Regions from separate parts of the Homo sapiens genome. Here all the other regions are linked to region 3. The links come from fine-mapping of genetic effects on gene expression. A gene starts in region 3. Each other region holds a variant in brackets. All regions are shown on one strand. Distances are from middle to middle. Region 1 overlaps LOC105377509 (a long non-coding RNA gene). Region 2 overlaps TMEM144 (transmembrane protein 144). Region 3 holds the start of TMEM144 (transmembrane protein 144).

What was found.
Region 1: its variant is fine-mapped to the expression of TMEM144 in whole blood (TOPMed, PIP above 0.99).
Region 2: its variant is fine-mapped to the expression of TMEM144 in lung (TOPMed, PIP above 0.99). The same link has a PIP of 0.9 or more in fibroblasts and nasal epithelium.

The regions. Positions count from the first base shown.
Region 1 is chr4:158,010,494-158,013,313 of GRCh38, forward strand. All of the region lies in intron 1 of LOC105377509 (a long non-coding RNA gene), which reads right to left. Among named protein-coding and RNA genes, the nearest start is that of GASK1B-AS1, 160 kb to the right of the region's middle. The variant A/G (reference allele first, on the strand shown) is at 1,479.
Region 2 is chr4:158,253,126-158,255,774 of GRCh38, forward strand. It overlaps TMEM144 (transmembrane protein 144), which reads left to right. Exons shown (of 13, transcript NM_018342.5): 13 at 319-2,291. The coding sequence ends at 402. Among named protein-coding and RNA genes, the nearest start is that of TMEM144, 44 kb to the left of the region's middle. The variant C/T (reference allele first, on the strand shown) is at 1,198.
Region 3 is chr4:158,208,985-158,211,804 of GRCh38, forward strand. It overlaps TMEM144 (transmembrane protein 144), which reads left to right and starts at 1,502. Exons shown (of 13, transcript NM_018342.5): 1 at 1,502-1,602; 2 at 2,469-2,590. RefSeq lists enhancers at 890-1,444, 1,345-1,434.

The sequences.
Region 1 (2,820 bases), 200 kb before region 3:
GTGATCATGGGTCACTGCATCCTTGACCTCCCTGACTCAAGCAATCGCCCGTCTGTCTCAGCCTCCCGCGGTGCTGGGACTACAGTCATGAGCCATCATGTCTGGCCTGCCAAGGTCTGTTTTGAGAAGAGTGAATATGGGGATCTTACACTGTGCAATATTTGAAATATCTAGAGGAAACATTATATAATGCAGTAGAAAATGCTTGAAAAAAACGTGAAGTATCTTGACAGCCCACTAAAAACACTGTATGATTTGTTTTGCCCTATATTGCAGTACTTCGGTGGCTTTAGCTGAATACGGTTCATCACAAGCCAACCTGTTAACATGCAGATGTGAACAAATGATCAAATAGAACTGAAGTTTATGGCCATTGCTTAACTCTTAGAGAATAAAAGGCAATAGCATTTCCCGATTATGAAGAATTCTACCTTTGTAAAAAATTAAACAAATGAAATTGTATCACTTATTTTCTAAAGGAATAAATTTAGAAAATATCACCTTTGGTCATAGTTGTCACCAGAACTGAATTTAAAATATTCATTCACTATCATTGCAGCCTGTACAGTCACTACAGTCTATGGTTTAAATATGGCCATTTTAAATTTGGGGGGTTTTGTTTTGATAATCACAAATAACTTTGATAAATGGTCAAATTTCACTTTTTTTATGTTTACCACATTTATTGGGTATTTTCCAATGTACCAATGCTGAGTCTTTTGGAACTGTCATTTGTAGCTGGTGCTTGTTTGACATGTGGAACCCAAAGACAGCAGAACTCTCTGTGGTCCCCATCCTAGTGCCCCCTCCCCACCCCTGCATCATTCCTGTGCCCCTCTAGGGGATGTGGCCAAGACTTTTGGAAGCCAGTGCCTTCCAGCTATAACAGTGTTGATATTCTGATATATTTACCAAGGCTCTAGTTTATACACAATCAGTTCTTCTCAAGTTGCCTCCTGCACTTATCAGTGGGACTGAAACACAACATAAAGACTACTGTCAATATTAAAGTTTTTGGCAAAGAGTGTGCACCTGAATCATCTTCTTTGTGCAGGGAGGTAGGATTAGGCACTGGGTTTGTCACAGAGCAAGCTGTTGTAAAGAAGTGAAGTGGATCCTGGAGATGGTTCTGTTGCAGTGGCAGTACAGTATCTCACCAGGTAGTGGCTGGAGTTGGCTCCAAGTCTCTGGCAGGGGAACACCTTGACACACGTCTGGGGTCGCTGGCACTCCCTTCCTCTCTGACTCCAGCCTTAAGGTGAAGAATTCCATGTAGCTTCTTGTCCTTTCCCCTCAGCTGTCTTTGCTTCACAAGGTTTTAGCCCAAATAAAGAGTACAAATCCCAAAGCCACATAGAAATGAACTTTCTGCTAACTGGAAGCTTTAAGTGAGTAAAGGTACTTTATAATGAAAAATGCATACATTTAGTTTAGGAAAACTGAGATGTTAACATGTACCTGGTGAAATAAGAAGAAAT[A/G]TCATCCTGATAATTCTCAAATTTTCTTCCCCTACAAGCACTGATCTCTAGCAAAGTGGGAAGAATATGTAAACTTCACTGTCATCATATAACATATTTCTGTTTATTAGGTGATTTTGTAGATAGTTTCAGTTTCATATTTAATATTATTTTATTTTCTGTTTATTTTTTAAATTAATTCTTGGCTCAATTTGGATCATGTGCTTTTAGAAAATTATTTTAATTATGATAGGAGACTTAAGTTGGTTATTTAGAGAGGACTCTGTTTGTTTACAGTTTTATGATCCTTCTCAAATGCTTTAAGAAACTGAAAGCCTGTAAAGCTTTCATGCATACTGTGAACTGCACACTTCAGTTCACAGAAGAGATTTAATTAGAATATGTTGATGATGAGCAGTCCATCTTTTTCATGTAGTATAATTTATTAGACATAAAGGTGGCATTATTTATACTGTTCAACCATACTTACATATATGCAAATATGAATTTAATTTGATTGTCTTGTTTAACCCTTGAAAAGCACTGAAGCCATCAATAGACAACCTTTAAGATGCTTCAGGGGAAGAGATACTTTTCCCAATAAATGTTATTGCCCTTCTGTCATTAGTAATTAGTATTTTAGCTTCATAGCTTGTTCTTTTGTCTAATATATTTCTGTAAATCTTTCATTCTCTAGCCAATCAATCAGAAGAAATTTTTAAGAGTTGATGGATGGTATGTGTGTGTGTGTGTTTTCACATAAATCAAAGTTGTACAGCAAGTTTGATTGTCATGCTGAGCTTGTCAAAATTAATCTAAGATTTATCATAAAGAAAAAAATGATTTTTTTCTGTTATATAGTTTGTGAGTTAACATAGAATGGTGGAGTAAGTAGCCTTTAGAATATACTTCCAATTCAATTAGTCCTAAGGTTTATATTACATTAAAGTAAAAATTCTCTGGACACAAACAAATATTAAGAATATATATAGTATTCTGAAAAATATGTTAATAAACTTCATTTTAATTTTATTAAATAGCACATTTTCTGTTACTTAATATTATTTAGAGAAGCAGGAGAATGAGAGCAATGAACACATGTCAGATGAGCAAGTAGAGAGGAAATTAAAGGACTAAAGGCATTGTTTCTGAAAATAAAAAAACCAGGCTATGGTCATACTGCCCTGAATGCGCCCAAACTCATCTGAAAACAAACAAACAAAAAAAAACAAACAAACTTTAAAACCAAATTTTAATATACGATAATAAAATTTAAAAAACAGAGAGAAAAAATCCATAATGTTCTCAATGGATGGTGAACAAAATGAAAACATGGTTTGATTTAGTTTGGTTTTTGTAAGAA
Region 2 (2,649 bases), 44 kb after region 3:
GTGGTTTGCTTTATTATTAACACCCCTCTCACATAATAACATTCTTTTCTGTGATTACTTCCTGTCTCCCATATTATATGATTGTTTGCATAAAGGTACATGTTGAAGCTTAGTGGGTGCCCACATTTATTTACGGAATGGGTGAATTCATAAGGCTCTGCAGGGGTTTGTGAGAACCTGATTACTTGGAAGGGGTAGCAAAAAAGGGTACAGGCGGCTAGAGCAGATGGTTAGGTCCCTAGCAATCTTGAGAGTCTGTCCATTTTGTGTAATTGATTCAGGCCTTATTCATCACTGTTATTCTTTTTTCTTATTCAGGGTCTACAAAACTACCTATTAATGATACTTGCATTTTGCATCATCTTGACTGGAGCCTTATGCACTGCTTTTTCTAAAATCTAACAATGACAAAACCAGCAGGTGGCAGCAGTAGTTAAGAGAACGCGTCTATCGGACAGCGGAGAGATCATGCTGAGAAAAGAGTGCATTTTCATATAGCAAATGGATCTCAGCCACTGTTGGAGTGGGTAAATGATTTTTTTCCCCAAAAATGTGAGAATGAAGGAAGATTGAGTTTCATTCAAGTATAAAAATGAAAATTTCTTCTGATGAACTGTTTATGAAGGTAGTACTTTACTGGGTGACTAAAATGTCTACATTATTATAGCATTACATACGAGGATGCTCTTTTTACCACAGTATGTACCTAGTGTTGCATAATCTAGAACACAGTATAGAGTCCATATACAAAGAAGTTACAGTCCATATTTCTCACCTATTACCCCAGTGAAGTGAGGCAGAAATACCTTGGGCGAGGAGGGAGAGCCTTACCTTCTAATGGAATTAGATTCCAAAGATATTTGGATCCTTTGTTTCATAAAGTAAATGCATAGTTGGTAACTAAATGTTAAAAAGGCCATTTTATTATTGTTAGCCAAAACTTCTGTTTATTTCAAGTTAATATCGCCCAACTCTACATCATCTACCCATTTTAGCTCATAATGCTTTTGATTATCGCCAGATAAAGTCCATTCTCAGAGAACAAAAATTTTTCATCATTGAGAAAATGTGCATAACATAATACATACATACACAAGTATATTCACGTACATAAATACACACAGATATGTTGCTAAAGTGAGATTGTAGGTTATCAGTAACAATTTAAAGGAAACAACCACTCTTTTGAATGTACAA[C/T]TTTTTTTTCTGAAATACACTTTTCTAAAACCCTCTTAACTGGAGGTTTCCTGTTTTCTTCTTGTTTTAACTGGTGGTTTCCAGTAGGCAAAATAAAATGACAGGCATGCTAGTTTTTTTTTTTTTTTTTTTTTTTTAAGAAAACTGAAATTAAGCCAGGCAGGGTGGCGCACTACTATAATCCCAGCTGCTGGGGCGGCTGAAGTAGGAGGGTCACTTAGCCCAAGAGTGCAAATCTGCCAGCCTAGGCAACATAGCAAGGTCCCATCTCTAAAAAAGAAATTTAATTTAAATTTGTAAGAAAAAAGAAAACTGAAACAGAACTGCCAGTACAATGTTTGTTGCAATTGTTTCCAAAACTTTGAGATAACGAAACCCCTATTCAAATGTAAATTTTACCCATTCCCACCTGATAGTACTGTTTATTACTTTGCTATGCAGGAGAAACAAAACAGCTTTTTATTTGTGTGTATACTCTGAAGTCAATGTGCATGGGTTAAATCCCACCTCTGCTTCATTTTATTTGTGTGGCTTTGGACAAGTTCCTAAGCCCTCTGTGTCAGGCCCCTCATTAACAAAATGGAGTTTATGATGGCATCTACCTCACATGGTTATTGTGTGGTTGAAATTAGTTCAAATCTGTAAAGTATGTTGATGAGTATCTGGTACTTGGCAAACACTATATAATTGTTAGCTTTATTATTATGTGTTGTTTGAAGGGGAAAAAAGTTTTTGTAGATTGGAGAACACCATGTAAGAGCTACTAAGCTCACCACCTTCCCATCCAAACAATTATTACTCCTCTAAATGAATACTACTTAAAAGTGATGGAGCTTCTGTTTGTTTATTGAATTGCTAATACAAATAAATATTTGACTATAACTTCTTATACTCATTTTAATTTTAACCTGAAATGTCATTAAATTATGCTGATAAACTTTGAATAAATTGTGATACAAAAGCTATTTTTCTCATTTAAATATATTTTAGAATTTTATATTGGATAACTTTTAATTATTCTTTAGTTGGGATTTCCAATTTATATGCAAAATTTTAAATGTGAAGTAAAGCAGTTTCAGAAGAAAAATGAAAAATCAGTCTTATTACCTCTATATAATTTATATATATCCCTATATATACTTTGTATATATATATACACACATTTATATATGTATATATATACACATTTATATATGTGTGTATATATATACACATTTATATATATGTGTGTGTATATATATATACACATTTATATATATGTGTGTGTGTGTGTGTGTGTGTGTGTGTGTGTGTGTGTGTGTATATATACACACACACACAGACCTCTATATAGTATATAGTTTCTGGTACCAAACAAGCTTTTTCAAAATGGTTACCAAAAAGCAACTTATTATTTAGAGGCTAGTCTAAATGGGCAGTTGCCAAATCTGCATTTTGTTTGCTCACCTTAGG
Region 3 (2,820 bases):
TCAGCCCCCAACTCACTTTTAGACTTTAGAAATTCTCAGCAAATGCTGACACAAGCTTCAGTTTCTCCATGTGAGTGAAGCAAGAATAAACCACATGATCTTGTGACCATGAAGTGAAACAATTCTAGGTTGGATTTAGGCCCTATATTTTTGGAAGCAAGTTTGTGTATGTGTGTGTGTCTTAGGTGTGCATGTGTGGAAAGGGGAACTGATTTCTTCAAAATCTTTCTGAACTGCTAAATTAATCCTCTTCCTTAAGTGAAAAAGCTTTGCTGCTTTAATTCTTTAAATGAAATGTTATTTTGCCTTCCCATCTGCTCATCTGACATGATAGTCTATGGATGTGATTAATGTTTAAGGCAGAACTTCCTTCTAGGAAATGTCATATTTTAACAGTCCTTGTGTTTTCTCCTTCCTGTGAATGCTACACCCATTACCAACCACTGGATGGTCTCGGGTTAAATAGCACTTCCTCAGAGAAGGCTTCTTTGAACTCAGACTAGCACAGAACCTACACTTCCCCTTTCCAACTTAAAGTTTGCATCCTTTGGTGTATGCGAACCCACATGAAGAGATGTTTTTTTTGTTTTGTTTTTTTTTTGAGAGGACTCCCTCACTTTGGGAGGGCGAGGCGGGCGGATCACCTGAGGTCAGGAGATCGAGACCATCCTGGCTAACACGGTGAAACCCCGTCTCTACTAAAAATACAAAAAAATTAGCCAGGTGTGGTGGTGGGTGCCTGTAGTCCCAGCTACTCAGGAGGCTGAGGCAGGAGAATCGCTTGAACCCAGGAGGCGGAGGTTGCAGGGAGCCGAGATTGCACCACTGCACTCCAGCTTGGACGAGAGCGAGACTCCGTCTTAAAAAAAAAAAATACAGATAAATGGCCTGTACAGATAAATGGCTTAGGTGCATCTACAAAGAATTAGTGATTACAAGTGAAATCTTGTAATGTCACAAGAAATGTTAATGACGTCAGTGGTGCAGATGAATTTCTTAATACCAAGTGGAAAAATTCACTTGAGATAATCTTTTACAATGGTGTGAAATTCCTCAGACTTTTGTTTTATCCATAAACTGCACAAATAATACCTCCCTCTGTGACACTTAGAGAGGGTGACATGCTGAGAGTTTCCTGAATAATCACCTCTTGAAATACACAAAACTCTTCTAGTTTCCTGGTTGACCGACCCAGGGCTTGACGACTCCTTTTGAGCCACCTGACAATTCAGTCCAGCACAGCAACTGAAGGAAGGCGTTCCCCAACCTGCTGTCCTATGAAGGCCTCTAGGTCACCGGTGCTAAAGCCCTCCTTTCTCCACCCTCCTTAAGTGGAGGTAAACGTCCCAGCAGGAAGTCAAGGCTGGATTGGCGCTCTTCGCGAGCACCCTGGGAACGGGAGTCTGGGTCACGGGTGCTAGAGCCCTCCCCTCTCCTCCCGGCCGGTGTATGGGAAATTGTCCCCGCAGAAAGTAAAGGCTGGCCAGGCCGCCCCCAGCACGTAGAGGGAATGAGTCAGGCTCCGGCTCCACACTGGCACGTAGTGGGCGGATCGCGCCGGCGCTGAGTAGGAAGGAGCTTCAGCCGCCAGCCCGGAACGCAGTGAGTACAGCCACTCAAAGGAAAGCCAAGTCGCTTTGCAGGGGAGCGTCTCATGATTTTTCAGAAACGTGCTCATGGTTAAAAAGAAAAATCAAGGCTCGGAATAAATACATTCAAGCACTGTTAATTTTAGCCCAAAGACAGGCGGTACTTGCCTGGAGATTTGGGAAAATCAACATGAAACTAAAAATGAAATTTTAGTTGGAGTGGAGCAAGCAGTATTGATCAGAACATACCAAATACGAATTTTTTCAAAGTCTGCGTAGAAGTTTAAATTACTAGGAAAAATGTAAAGGAGAAGTATTTACTAATAAATGAAACAAAAGTAATAAAATAAAAATGAATTAATATAGTTTGACAAAATATCAGCGAACGCTGAAAAGAAAACATTAAAATAATGTTTGAGACTTTTTAGGTTTTGTGCAGGAAGAATTGGGAAAAATGTGCTGGATGGAGTGATACTGCTTTTCTTTTCCACAAAAATTTCATTATTTTAGAGAGCGGTAGAGCCTTTTTAAAGACAGTAAGTTATTGCCAATTCACAATGAAATAAGATCACATGCTCTGAAATGTACAAGAGCTGCATGCAATAAACTTCATTTATCTATAGGTAATAACTGATTGATGTTTATTCAGTAGTCGAAATGCACCTCATGCACTCTAATTAGCACGTCAAATTAGTCTCTCCGTTTCAGAGGTGTAGGGCCTTTGTGGAGCCTTCTCAATAAAATAATTTGCCACTCTTGAAGGTTAGACATTCTCTTCTATCAATGTACACATAAAGGTTTTGTTTTGCTTTGCTTGTTGTGAATTAAAATGGGGAGAAAATGATGTGTTAGCTATCACCCAGTCATGTGTCTTTTTAGTCATAGGTTAGCTTTTCAAGACACTTCCTGCATCTCTGACCTGTTGCACCTCTGTTATCTTGGCACCTCTGTTATCTTAGCAGCAAGCACCTGCCTCAGCTGACCCTTGAGCCATAACCCATGTAAGTCACTGCAGGGCTGAACCTCTCTTTGAGCCTAACAGTAGAATAATAATTATTTTTATTGAATAGTGTTAATGTGTCAATGTTGAAATGTGCCTCAGTGTGTCTTCCTCAACCACATCCCTATAGAGGATGTTTTCTTAATAGCAATGTGTTTTTGTTTTAAGAAAGTCCACACAATTTCAAATACACATTTTCTTTACTAAAGTTTATTGACCAGTTTTGAAGTG